3 separate regions of the Homo sapiens genome follow, and all the other regions are reported to be linked to region 1. The links are microRNA targets in miRTarBase. Many come from high-throughput screens and were not tested one by one. Region 1 holds a microRNA gene; each other region holds the end of a gene's coding sequence.

The links. The annotated mature microRNA hsa-miR-6886-3p reads UGCCCUUCUCUCCUCCUGCCU and lies in region 1 at 1,550-1,570, shown strand. An mRNA with a match to its seed (bases 2 to 7 or 8) in the 3' UTR can be bound and repressed. Matches are read on the target gene's strand: a 7mer-m8 pairs with bases 2 to 8, a 7mer-A1 pairs with bases 2 to 7 and ends in A, and an 8mer does both.
Region 2: the mRNA of MRPL18 is a reported target of hsa-miR-6886-3p. Seed matches in the 3' UTR shown: 7mer-A1 at 547-553.
Region 3: miRTarBase lists KNTC1 as a target of hsa-miR-6886-3p. The part of its 3' UTR that is shown has no 7-base or 8-base seed match.

The regions. Positions count from the first base shown.
Region 1 is chr19:11,111,962-11,115,961 of GRCh38, forward strand. It overlaps MIR6886 (microRNA 6886), which reads left to right and starts at 1,513; the gene lies at 1,513-1,573. It overlaps LDLR (low density lipoprotein receptor), which reads left to right. Exons shown (of 18, transcript NM_000527.5): 9 at 1,317-1,488; 10 at 1,574-1,801.
Region 2 is chr6:159,797,826-159,801,996 of GRCh38, forward strand. MRPL18 (mitochondrial ribosomal protein L18) reads left to right here. Exons shown (of 4, transcript NM_014161.5): 4 at 227-604. The coding sequence ends at 298. It overlaps PNLDC1 (PARN like ribonuclease domain containing exonuclease 1), which reads left to right and starts at 2,451. Exons shown (of 19, transcript NM_001271862.2): 1 at 2,451-2,558; 2 at 2,947-3,004; 3 at 3,288-3,361. The coding sequence starts at 2,483.
Region 3 is chr12:122,626,016-122,630,186 of GRCh38, reverse strand. KNTC1 (kinetochore associated 1) reads right to left here. Exons shown (of 64, transcript NM_014708.6): 64 at 3,791-3,982. The coding sequence ends at 3,959. Among named protein-coding and RNA genes, the nearest start is that of MIR9902-1, 68 kb to the left of the region's middle.

The sequences.
Region 1 (4,000 bases):
TGCCACACACCTGTGGTCCCAGCTACTCAGAAGGCTGAGGCGGGAGGATTGCTTGAGGGCAGGAGGATTGGTTGATCCTCCCACCTCAGCCTCCGGAGTAGCTGGGACCTCAGGTGCATGCCACTATGCCTGGCTAATTTTCTTTTTTCTTTTTTTTTTTTTTTCGAGACGGAGTCTCGCTCTGTTGCCCAGGCTGGAGTGCAGTGGCAGGATCTCGGCTCACTGCAAGCTCCGCCTCCCGGGTTCACGCCATTCTCCTGCCTCAGCCTCCCCAGTAGCTGGGACTACAGGAGCCCGCCACTGCACCAGGCCAATTTTTTTGTATTTTTAGTAGAGACGGGGTTTCACTGTGTTAGCCAGGATGGTCTCGATCTCCTGACTTCGTGATCCGCCCACCTCGGCCTTCCAAAGTGCTCGGATTACAGGCGTGAGCCACTGCGCCCAGCCGCTAATTTTCATATTTTTAGTAAAAACAGGGTTTCACCATGTTGGCCAGGCTAGTCTTGAACTCCTGAACCCAAGTGATCCTCCTGCCTTGGCCTCCCAAAGTGCTGGGATTACAGACACCACACCTGGCTATTATTATTTTTTAGAGACAGGGTGCTGCTCTATCTTCCAGCCTGTAGTGCAGTGCAGCCTCCATCATAGCTCGCTGCAGCCTTGACCTCCTGGGTTCACGTGATCGTCCCGCCTAAGCCTCTGGAGGAGCTGGGAGTACTGGCATGTGCCACCATGCCTGGTTAATTTTTTTTTTTTTTTTTTTGAGACAGAGTCTCATTCTGTCACCCAGGCTGGAGTGCGGTGGTGCGATCTTGGCTTACTGAAACCTCCACCTCCCAGGTTCCAGCAATTCTCCTGCCTCACCCTTCTGAGTAGCTGGGATTACAGGTTCCGGCTACCAAACCTGGCTAGTTTTTGTATGTTTAGTAGAGACAGGGTTTCACCATGTTGGTGAGGCTGGTCTCGATTCTCCCGCCTCAGCCTCCCAAAGTGCTGGGATTACAGGCTTGAGCCACCGTGCCTGGCTTTTTTTTTTTTTTTTTTTTTTGTGGCAATAAGGTCTCATTGTCTTGCCCAGGCTAGCCTTATGCTCCTAGCCTCAAGTGATCCTCCTCCCTCAGCCTCCCAAAGTGCTGGGATTACAGGTGGGCGCCACTGTGCCTGTTCCCGTTGGGAGGTCTTTTCCACCCTCTTTTTCTGGGTGCCTCCTCTGGCTCAGCCGCACCCTGCAGGATGACACAAGGGGATGGGGAGGCACTCTTGGTTCCATCGACGGGTCCCCTCTGACCCCCTGACCTCGCTCCCCGGACCCCCAGGCTCCATCGCCTACCTCTTCTTCACCAACCGGCACGAGGTCAGGAAGATGACGCTGGACCGGAGCGAGTACACCAGCCTCATCCCCAACCTGAGGAACGTGGTCGCTCTGGACACGGAGGTGGCCAGCAATAGAATCTACTGGTCTGACCTGTCCCAGAGAATGATCTGCAGGTGAGCGTCGCCCCTGCCTGCAGCCTTGGCCCGCAGGTGAGATGAGGGCTCCTGGCGCTGATGCCCTTCTCTCCTCCTGCCTCAGCACCCAGCTTGACAGAGCCCACGGCGTCTCTTCCTATGACACCGTCATCAGCAGAGACATCCAGGCCCCCGACGGGCTGGCTGTGGACTGGATCCACAGCAACATCTACTGGACCGACTCTGTCCTGGGCACTGTCTCTGTTGCGGATACCAAGGGCGTGAAGAGGAAAACGTTATTCAGGGAGAACGGCTCCAAGCCAAGGGCCATCGTGGTGGATCCTGTTCATGGGTGCGTATCCACGACGCTGAGGGCTGCAGAGGGAATGGAGGGAGCAGGAAGGAGCTTCAGGAACTGGTTAGTGGGCTGGGCATGGTGGCTCAAAGCACCTGTAATCCCAGCACTTTGGGAGGCCAAGGTGGGTGGATCATCAAGACCAGCCTGACCAACATGGTGAAACCTCGTCTCTACTAAAAATACAAAAATTAGCCGGGTGTGGTGGTGGGCACCTGTAATCCCAGCTGCTCGGGAGGCTGAGGCAGGAGAATCACTTGAACCTGGGAGATGGAGGTTGCAGTGAGCCAAGACAGCCCCACTGCACTCCAGCCTGGGTGACAGAGTGAGACTCCGTCTCAAAAAAAAAAAAAAAAACTAAACAAAAAACTGGTTAGTGGCTAGACAACAGGATGGTATCTTCCAAGCCCATGGCTGACTCAGCAGCTCCTGGGTCAAGACACTGTGACCTGTGTCCCCTGGCAGGAAGCATCGCCCCTGCCACCTGCCCGGTGTACTCTGTACCTGTCAGGTGACATCTGCTACCTAAGCACGTGAGAGGTGGCATTTCACAGTTTCAGTGTGGTGCTGACAACCCGGGACGCACACTGTCCTTGCAGCTACAATCAGGAGGTGAATGTTGGGTTTCCAGCAGAGAACACTGGAGAAGGCACACTTGGTGTCTGGAAGGGAAAAGCAGGGAAGAGAGCATCATCAGATGCCTGCGGGTGAAGGTGGGCCCGCTATGGCCAGCGTCCCTTTTTATTTTTATTTATTTATTTATTTGAGATGGAATCTCGCTCTGTCGCCCAGACTGTAGTGCAGTGGTGCGATCACGGCTCACTGCAAGCTCCGCCTCACAGGTTCACGCCATTCTCCTGCCTCAGCCTCCCGAGTAGCTGGGACTACAGGCACCCGCCACCACGCCCGGTTAATTTTTTGCATTTTTATTAGAGACGGGGTTTCACCGCGTTAGCCAGGATGGTCTAAATCTCCTGACCCTGTGATCCACCCGCCTCGGCCTCCCTAAGTGCTTGGATTACAAGCGTGAGCCACCACGCCCGGCCCCCTTTTTATTTTTTATTTTTTGAGACGGAGTCTCGCTCTGTCGCCCAGGCTAGATTGCAGTGGCGTGATCTCGGCTCACTGCAGCCTCCGCCTCCCAGGTTCAAGTGATTCTCCTGCCTCAACCTCCCAACTAATTAGGATTACAAGCATGTACCACCATGCCTGACTAATTTTTTGTATTTTTAGTAGAGACTGGGTTTCACCATGTTGGCTAGGCTGGTCTCGAACCCTTAGCCTCAAGTAATCTGCCTGCCTCAGCCTCCCAAACAGCGGGGATTACAGGCATGAGCCACTGTGCCCAACCCAACCCTGGATCTCTTTTAAACAAGACAATGCTCGCTGTTGCCACAGAACAATGGGTGGGGTACATGTGGCCCAGTGTGTTTGGCCACATAACTGCCAGGCCAGAGGGAAAGAGACTCTCAGACTGTCTCCACTCAGATACAAATGTGTGTGTTGTGTGCGTGTGTTCTGGTCTCATATTTGTTTGTTTTGAGACAGGGTGTCGCTCTGTCACTGAGTCTGGAGTGCAGTGGCGCAATCAGAGTTCACTGCAGCCTCAAACTCTTGGGCTCAGTTGATTCTCCCACTTCAGCCTCCCAAGTAGCTGGAACTACAGGTGAACACCACTGTGCCCAGCTAATTTATTTTATTTTTAGTAGAGATGAGGTCTCACTATGTTGCCCAGGCTGGTCTTGACCTCCTAGCCTCAAGCAATCCTCCTGCCTTGGTCTCCCAAAGTGCTGGGATTACACGTGCGAGCCATTGCGCATGGCTTGTGTTCTTGTGTTTCTTCCTTTTTCTTTCGAGATGGCGTCTCAGTCTGCCACCCAGGCTGGAGTGCAGTGGTGTGATCATAGCTCACTGTAGCCTCAACTTCCTGGGCTCAAGCAATCCTCTTGATTTCAGCCTCCCGGGCCTGGCCAGCATGGTGAAACCCCGTCTCTACTAAAAATACAAAAATGTAGCCAGGCGTGGTGGTGGGCGCCTGTAATCCCAGCTACACCAGAGGCTGAGGCAGGAGAATCGCTTGAGCCTGGAAGGTGGAGGTTGCAGCAAGCCAAGATCGTGCCACTGCACTCCAGCCTGGGCAACAGAGACAGACTCTGTCTCAAAAAAAAAAAAAAAAAACCCAAACAAGCCACATTT
Region 2 (4,171 bases), not on the chromosome of region 1:
GACATCTTGTCCATATAATATTTTGAAATGCTGCTGAACCTTGACATCTCTACATTTCCTTTTTACTTACATCATTATTAAGATCACTTTCTGAAAAACCGTTGTAGGCTGGGAAGTTAGCAAGAACAAATCAATTTATTTCTGTCTTTTGGAAGGTGAAAGTATTTTCAGCCTACTCGTGCTGCTGACTTAATCTTTTCCTTTTTTTTCTGATTTTCAAAACCAGATGAAACGACTACAAAGTGCCATGACAGAAGGTGGTGTGGTTCTACGGGAACCTCAGAGAATCTATGAATAAATGGAAGCATTAATTGTTTTGAACATGTAAATATAAATCTGTCAGCCACTACAGCCATCAAAAGAGAGCATCTGGAAGAACAGCCAGCTTGGAAGTTTTACAGCAATAATGTTGCAGTGGAATATTATTTGTAGTTAAGGTCATCCTCCTCCCCTTTCTGTTTTTTTAAATCAAGAACTACGTTCTGCCCCTCTCTTGGGCTTCAGAAGCATCTAAGAAAAGCAGTCATCAATTATAATTAACTTTCAAAGGGCAAGTCAGAAGTTGTTTATAAATTACAAAATAAAGGCATATTATGAACTCTTATTTTCTGGTTATATGACATTGTCTGAGCTCACTGTGGCAGTGGAGCACATATGAGGTTGATGTAAAGCACTTATTACTGTGTCTAGTTCATGGCGAGTGATCTCAGTGAATGACAGTTGTTTGCTGCTCGGAGTGTGGGTTGTTTTTTAAAATAGGAAATGTCAGTATCAATCTAATACTATAGAACAGTCAGTATGTGAAAATGAAAGGACCAAATGCCAACCTCACTTGGACTCTTGGTTCCCAACAGTAAGAGAAACAAATTTGAAAGAGGAAGGAGGTGGCATCAGGAGCTGAAAGCAGAGGTGGAAATGGTTGGGGTTAGTGGGCGCTCAATTTGCCATGAAGTGAACATTTTATTAGATAGGAGATGAAACTTGAAATGCATGCAAGTTAATCTAAAATTTGAGCTTGGGTAGATGGGAATCATGGCAGTTCTCTGAAAGGAGCTGATTAAGGTGTTAATTTTTGGCTATTTGATAAATGTGAGAAAAAACCTGTAGGCAGTTAAGGTGGCTTCTAGAGCATTGTTTTCCAGTTTTTTTAATGTATACCCCAATTAAATGTTTGTTTAGAAGTGAAATATGTTACTTCTGCCAATTTGAGTATTCAATGTGTTATTTTAAATGGAACACATCTGTATGAAGTATGATTTGTTCTGAGAGGTCTTCAGAATCAAATGGCTTAATAGTCCCCTTTTGCTTAATTAATGTCCCGGAGAGGCATTTAAAAGTATAATTGAAGATCGGATGCAGTGCCTCACACCTCTAATCCCACCACTTTAGGAGGCTGAAGCAGGTGGATCACTTGAGGCCAGGAATTCGAGACCAGCCTGGCCAATACGGTTTAACCCTATCTCTACTAAAAACAAAAATGAGTTGGGCGTGGTGGTGCATGCCTGTAATCCCAGCTGTTCAGAGGCTGAGGCGGGAGAATCGCTTGAACTCAGGAGGTGGAGATTGCAGAGAGCCGAGATGGCACCACTGCACTCCAGCCTGGGTGACAGAGTGAGACTGTCTCAAAAGGAAAAAATAAAGTATAACGGTAATGTTTTCTCCGCTAACCTTAAAGATTGATTTGAGCACCTCACTTTGAGGACCATAGTTCCAAAACGCTGTTCAAGTAGAAGCCTAGAATTCAAGGGAGGACACTGTAAGGAAGACCATGGACTAGTTGCACTGGAAACAGTAACAAAAGTAAAAATTAAGCTCACATGTATGTGATGATGTAGGTAGGGATTTCCGCAAGGAGTGAGTGCACGAGATAATCCCTGGGGACCAAGGATTCCTTCAATTTAATGGGCAGTTCTTGAGGCTTTGCAAAGTTTGATTGCAGGTGTGAAGACAGTGGTAAGGTGGACAGCAGAATGAGGAAAAAGATGTCCAGGGGCGTGGGAGAGGGAATGGGGACAGACATACTGGCAGTGATGGAGAAGTTGGGAAGAGGTGATTTAGAAGACCGTGAGCCGCAGCAAAGGATCTGCTTATTGCAGTTGCGTCCGGTGTTGTTCCTGCTCCGCTTTTCTGATTTCACCCTTTCTGGACTCTGTCTTCGTCTCCTGCCACGCCTCTTAACATTCTAAGTCCATGTAAATGACATTCTCACGTTAAGGGCTGCAAAGAAATTGCTGAGGAGCCAGGTAAACAGGCTTTGATTGCAATTGCAATCAAACCTCTGTAGCAAATCGTACAATTAAAACACCCGCAGGCAGGTGTGGGCGACGCCAGCAGCACACGGGGAAGCTGGGCACGTGGGGCGGAGGCAGCTGCCTGGTTTCCATGTGTGCGCCCTTTAAGACCCGGCGGCGCGACGGAAGCGCGTGGGCAGCACGTGGGCAGCACGTGATAGCGCTGGGCGACTCCGCGGAGCTGCACGGCCATGGACGTGGGCGCCGACGAGTTCGAGGAGAGCCTCCCTCTGCTGCAGGAGCTCGTCCAGGAGGCCGACTTCGTGGGTGAAGAGCCTGGGATTCGCGGCTGTGCCGGACAGAGCCCCTTGCCCCGGGCGAGCTTGAGGAGGGGGTGGCGGGACGGTTGCCAGGCCACAGGGCCTCAGAGAGGGCCTCGGGAAGGACAGGGGGGCTTCCTTCTCCAGCCCCGGGGCGGTGGGACTTTGAGCAGCAAGTACACTCCGAGCCCCACGTCCCTTGTTGGCCAGAGCCCCGTGCGCCCAGGTGCCTGGCTGCTCCTTGCCTTGGTTCCTCCATTTTCCCTTCCTGACCTCACTTGGCTTCTTGAGCGCAGAGGTGAGCGCGGGTGCCTTGGCCGCCTGCAGATCTACAGTGTGAGGAGTGCTGGCGATGTTCTGCACCCGAGGACTGCTATTTTTTGCCTTCCTGGCAGGTCTGGACATAGAGTTCACGGGCCTTCGTTCTAACCTGTCTGGGCCCCAGCAGATCAGGTAAAACTAAAGCTGTGTCCCCTCTGTATAAGAGCCTGGCCAGACCAGCACTGTTTCTGGCCAGCAGCCTGTTGGCATTTGGGGGGCAGGACGTTTTGTGTGGCTTGCTCCTACGTGTTGGAGGACCTTGCTTTTTTCTGTCCACTAAATGATGGTAGTGCTCCCTAGTTGTTGTAACAAGGAAAAAATCCTCCCCGGTTGCGAGTGGTGGTCCTGCCGCGGAGGCCATAGTGCCGGGATGGGATGTCATTGCTCGTGGAATGAGATGCCTGTTTGTTCACAGTCTTTTTGATTTGCCATCGGAGTGGTATCTAAAGACCCGTCAGAGTGTTCAGCAATTTACAGTCTGTCAGATTGGTGAGTTTAATATCAGCTGTTAGAGTTTTTCAAGAAGGTATTTTTATTGTCCTTGGATTTCCTACTGTAAAAACAGCTCTGAGATTTTTCAAGGATATTGAGTATCGTTTTGTATGCTTGTTTTGTGTTGGGCCATTGTATACATATGGAAATCAACACTTCGGAGCAAACCAAATTTAGCAGCATTGTTTCCGTGCTTAAATAAGTCAGTATTAAGGAACACTCACTGTTACTCTTTCAAGTAAAACTGTGTGTGTGCGATTTTTATTTTATTTTTTGAGACAGGGTCTTGCTCTGTCACCAAGACTGGAGTGCAGTAGCATAGTCTTAGCTCACTGCAGCCTAGACTTCCTGGGCTCAAGTGATACTAGCACGTCAGCCTCCTGAGTAAACTGGGACTACAGGCTCACCACCACACCTAGCTAATTTTTAAATTTTTTGTTCAGATGGGTTTTCGTCATGTTGGCCAGGCTGTTCTTGACTTCCTGGGCTCGAGCAATCTTTCTGCCTCTGCCTCTCAAAGTGATGGAATTATAAGCGTGAGCAACCACACCTGGCCTGTGATTTTTTTTTCTTAAGAAAATTTACACACAAAAATAATTTTTTTTAAGGTCATCTCAGTTTCAGAAACTTTTTTTTTTTCCTTGATGGGATTTGGAGATCTTTCTGTATCGGTTCATACAGATCTATTTGTTGATTTAGTTATTAGTTTATTTTCTGAGATGGAGTCTCGCTCTGTTGCCCAGGCTGGAGTGCAGTAGCGCGATGTGGGCTCACCGCAACCTCCACCACCCAGGTTCGGGTGATTCT
Region 3 (4,171 bases), not on the chromosome of region 1:
ATGCTGAGGCACGAGAAGCACTTGAACCCAGAAGGCGGAGGTTGCAGTGAGCCAAAATTTTGCCACTGTACTCAGCCTGGGTGAAGGAGATTCTGTCTCAAAAATAAATAAATAAATGATATGTAAATAAATAAATAAAAATAAAATCATAGACAGCTACTCAGGAGGCTGAGGTGGGAGGACTGCTTGAGCTCAGGAGTTCAAGGCCAGCTTGGGCAACATAGTGAGACTCCGTCTACATTAAGTCAATCAATCAAGGCAGGTACTTCCATTATCTAAATTTTGTCTTCCAACACATTTTAGGGGGGCTAATAAAGGATGCCAGTCTGTCCAGAAACTTGTATAGAAGGACTGAGTACTTCCTCATTCTGTATATGGCCACATGCAGTTAGCCCATTCCCTTCTTTAAAAAAATTTTTTTCTTTGTAGAGATGAGGTCTTACTATGTTGTCCAGACTGGTTTCAAACTCCTGGCCTCAAGTGATCCTTCCACCTTGGCCTCCCAAAGTCCTATGGTAACAGGTGTGAGCCATCATGCCAGGCCTACATTCCCCTCCTGATGAGTACTTTGGTTGTTTCCAAACGTTTCCTCCGAGAATAATGGCATAGTGAGTAACTTACAAGTGTGTGTTCCTAGAAGTGGAATAGTTGGGTCAAAAGGTATGCATATTTGTAATTTTGAAGAGATTGTCAAATTGTCCTCCAAAGAACTTATACAAATTTAAATTTCCACCAAGATATGAGAATAAATTTTCTGATAATTTTGTCCAGTTATCAAACTTTAATTTTTGCCATTCTGGCAAGTAAAAAATGGAATCTAAGGTAGTTTTAATTTGCATTTTTATTAGCATTAGGGAGGTTTTCTTTTCACATGTTCCAAAGCCCTTTGGGCCATGCACAGTGGTTCACATCTCTAATCCCAGCAACTCAGGAAGATTGCCTGAGGCCAGGAGTTTGAGACCAGCCTGGGCAGCATACCAAGGTCCTAGCTCTACAAAAAAAAAAAAAAAAATTGGCTGAGTGTGGTGACATGCACCTGTATGGTCCCAGCTACTCAAGAGGCTGAGGCAACAGGATTGCTTGAGCTCAGGAGTTTGAGGCTGCAGTGAGCTATGATTGCTTCACTGCACTCCAGCCTGGGTGATAGAGCAAGACTCCATCTCTAGTGGGGAGGAAAAAAGCCCTTTGTATTTTTTTCTATGGTGTATTTATTTGTATTATTATTTTTATTTTGAGACAGGGGTTCACTGTCACCCAGGCTGGAGTGCAGTGGCACAATCTTGGCTCACTGCAATCTCTGCCTCCTGGCCTCAAGCCATCCTCCCACTTCAGCCTCCCAAGTAGCTGTGACTTCAGGCGCACACCACCATGCCAGGTCAATTTTTTTGTTGTTGTTTTTTAGTTTTTAGTAGAGACAAGGTTTCACTATGTTGCCCAGTCTGGTCTCGAACTCCTGGGCTTAAGCAATCCGCTAACTTAGTCCTCCCTAAGTGCTGGGATTACAGGTATGAGCCACCATGCCCAGCCCAGCTATTTTTTTTTTTTTTTTGAGATGGAGTCTCACTCTGTTGCCCAGGCTGGAGTATAGTGGCTTGATCTTGGCTCACTGAAGCATCCACCTCCTGGGTTCAAGCAATTCTCCTGCCTCAGCCTCCCAAGTAGCTGGGATTACAGGTGCCTGCCACCACACCTGGCTATTTTTTGTACTTTTAGTAGAGACGGGGTTTCACCATGTTGGCCAGGCTGGTCTCGAACTCCTGACCTCAGGTGATCCACCTGCCTCAGCCTCCCAAAGTGCTGGGATTACAGGAGTGAGCCACCATGCCCGGCCAGCCCAACTATTCTTATTTGTTATGATATGATCTTTAGAAGTCTGTCTAAGACCTATGTAAATAGTTATTGGACAATGTTTTAAATATAGGTCAAACGTCATTAAAATATCATTGCAAATTAAGTAACTTGCATTTTTAAACTAATTATTGTGGAGAAACAGTATAACACCTTCAAAGTGTAAAATAATTTTATTATTGAAACTGCAATTTAAAAACTTGCAATTAGCTAAATAGAAGCCTATATACTCGTAATAACTAGCATTTTTGGCACTCGGGTACTGTGCTAGACGCATTTTTTTTTTTTTTTTCTTTTTAGACAGAGTCTTGCCCTTGCCCTATCATCCAGGCTGGAGTGCAGTGGCATGATCTCTGCTCACTGCAACCTCTGCCTGCTGGGTTCAAGTGATTCTCCCACCTCAGCCCCCTGAGAAGCTGGGATTACAGGCATGCATCACCACGCCTGGCTAATTTTTTGTATTTTTAGGAGAGATGGGGTTTCACCATGTTAGCCAGGATGGTCTCGATCTCCAGACCTCATGATCTGCCCACCATGGTCTCCCAAAGTGCTGGGATTATAGGCGTGAGCCACCGTGCCTGGCCTAGATGCTTTATACGAACTGATTCAAACCTCCTGCCACTAGAAGGTAGATACTTTTACTGTCCTCAGTTTGAGGGAATTAAGATGGTGAGAAATTGGGCCAAGCAAGGTGGCTCATGCCTGTCATACCAGTACTTAGGGAGGCCAAGGTGGGAGGATTACTTGAGGCCTAGAGTTCAAGACCAGCCTGGGCAAGAAAGCAAGACCTTATCTCTACAAAAAAATTTAAAAATCAGGAAAGCATGGTGGTGTGTGCCTGTAGTCCCAGATACTCGGGAGGCTGAAGCAGGAGGATCCCTTAAGCACAGGGGTTCAGGGTTGCAGTGAGCTATGGTCATAACACTACACTCCAGCCTGGGTGACAGCAACACCACCCTGTTTCTCTCTGTGGGAAATTAAATAACTTGTTCAGGCCCACACAGCTAGTAAGTGATAGAACTAGAACTCAAATCCAGACTTATTTTACTTCGAAACCTGTGTTGAATCATGTTTCATTGAGTTTTTTAGAAATCTTTTTTTTCAACTGGCAAAATAAAGGCAAACTAATTCCAGTAACATCAAATTCACTTAAGTTATTCGCAAGTATGGCAAAGGACTACAAAGTCAGAATAACAGGTGTAATTAACACTTCTGTGTGCTGGCTTTTTGCTCCACACGCCTTTCTAGGCCACCGGCTGCAGTGCTGGGGGTTTACAGTTGCGGACCACTCCTCCCAGACTTCTAGCCAGGTGGCTTCCAGTTTGGTTCTGCTATTTCTTGGCACTGGGGTAAAAATTAGAAGCTTGGAGAAAGTGCAGAGATGTTTCTTCTTTTGGTGGTGGGCTTGGCAGCCTGGACAGCAGCAGTGTTAAGTTGTCAGCAGCACTGGCAAAGAGACTCCTGGGCTTCTGAGCACTGCAGTGGCCACAGCAGCTCCGACAGCTCAGTGGCAAATGTGGGCTCGGGGCTCCAAGCCAAGGGCCGGAGCAGCTCCTGATCTGTGGCTGCAAAGCCCTTCTTCCCTTTTGTCTGGCTCCCGCTTCTACCTCCCTTCTGTTCTTTCAGTCTTTTGAAGAACTTTATAGCCAATCCCTGGCATGAAATTCTTCTCTGCTTGGCATATCTAGAGTGGCTTTTATTTTTCTGACTGATAAACTCTGCCACTAAAATTATACCAATATTTTCTTAGAATAACATTAAAAAGACTGATATTCTTACTTTTTTATATGGAAGACATAGGCTATAAGCACTCAATTTTCTTAAGGGAGAGAGCAAACTTTTTGCACTTTGTTTCCTTCATATATGGTGCAAAAAAGTTGATAGTCTCTATAAATTGCACAAGTGACTGGCAATGAAAAGACTTATTAATTCAGGACATGAGTTCTTTATGGGGCAATTATGCTCATATTGTTTTATTTATTACATGTGGGGTAATGTTAGACAAATAGCTATAATACAGAGATTGTACAATTTAAAAACTGTAATAAATATGGTCCATTAATAGCAGACTCCAAAATTCTTGTCCTTCTTGAAAAAAAGGTTCAGTGATTTACGATAATCCACTAAGAAACATCTAAATGGGAAGAAACACAGAAGTGATTTTTATAAGTCACTTAGTTTTTCAAATTGAAAATGGTCAGATAAACTACAGAACTTAAGTGAAGTGATACAAATCTACATATCAAACTATTTGGCATTTTAGATTAGAGAGAAACAGATTTTAAACGCCACAAATTTATCTCCCGAATCAATACTCTCCCCT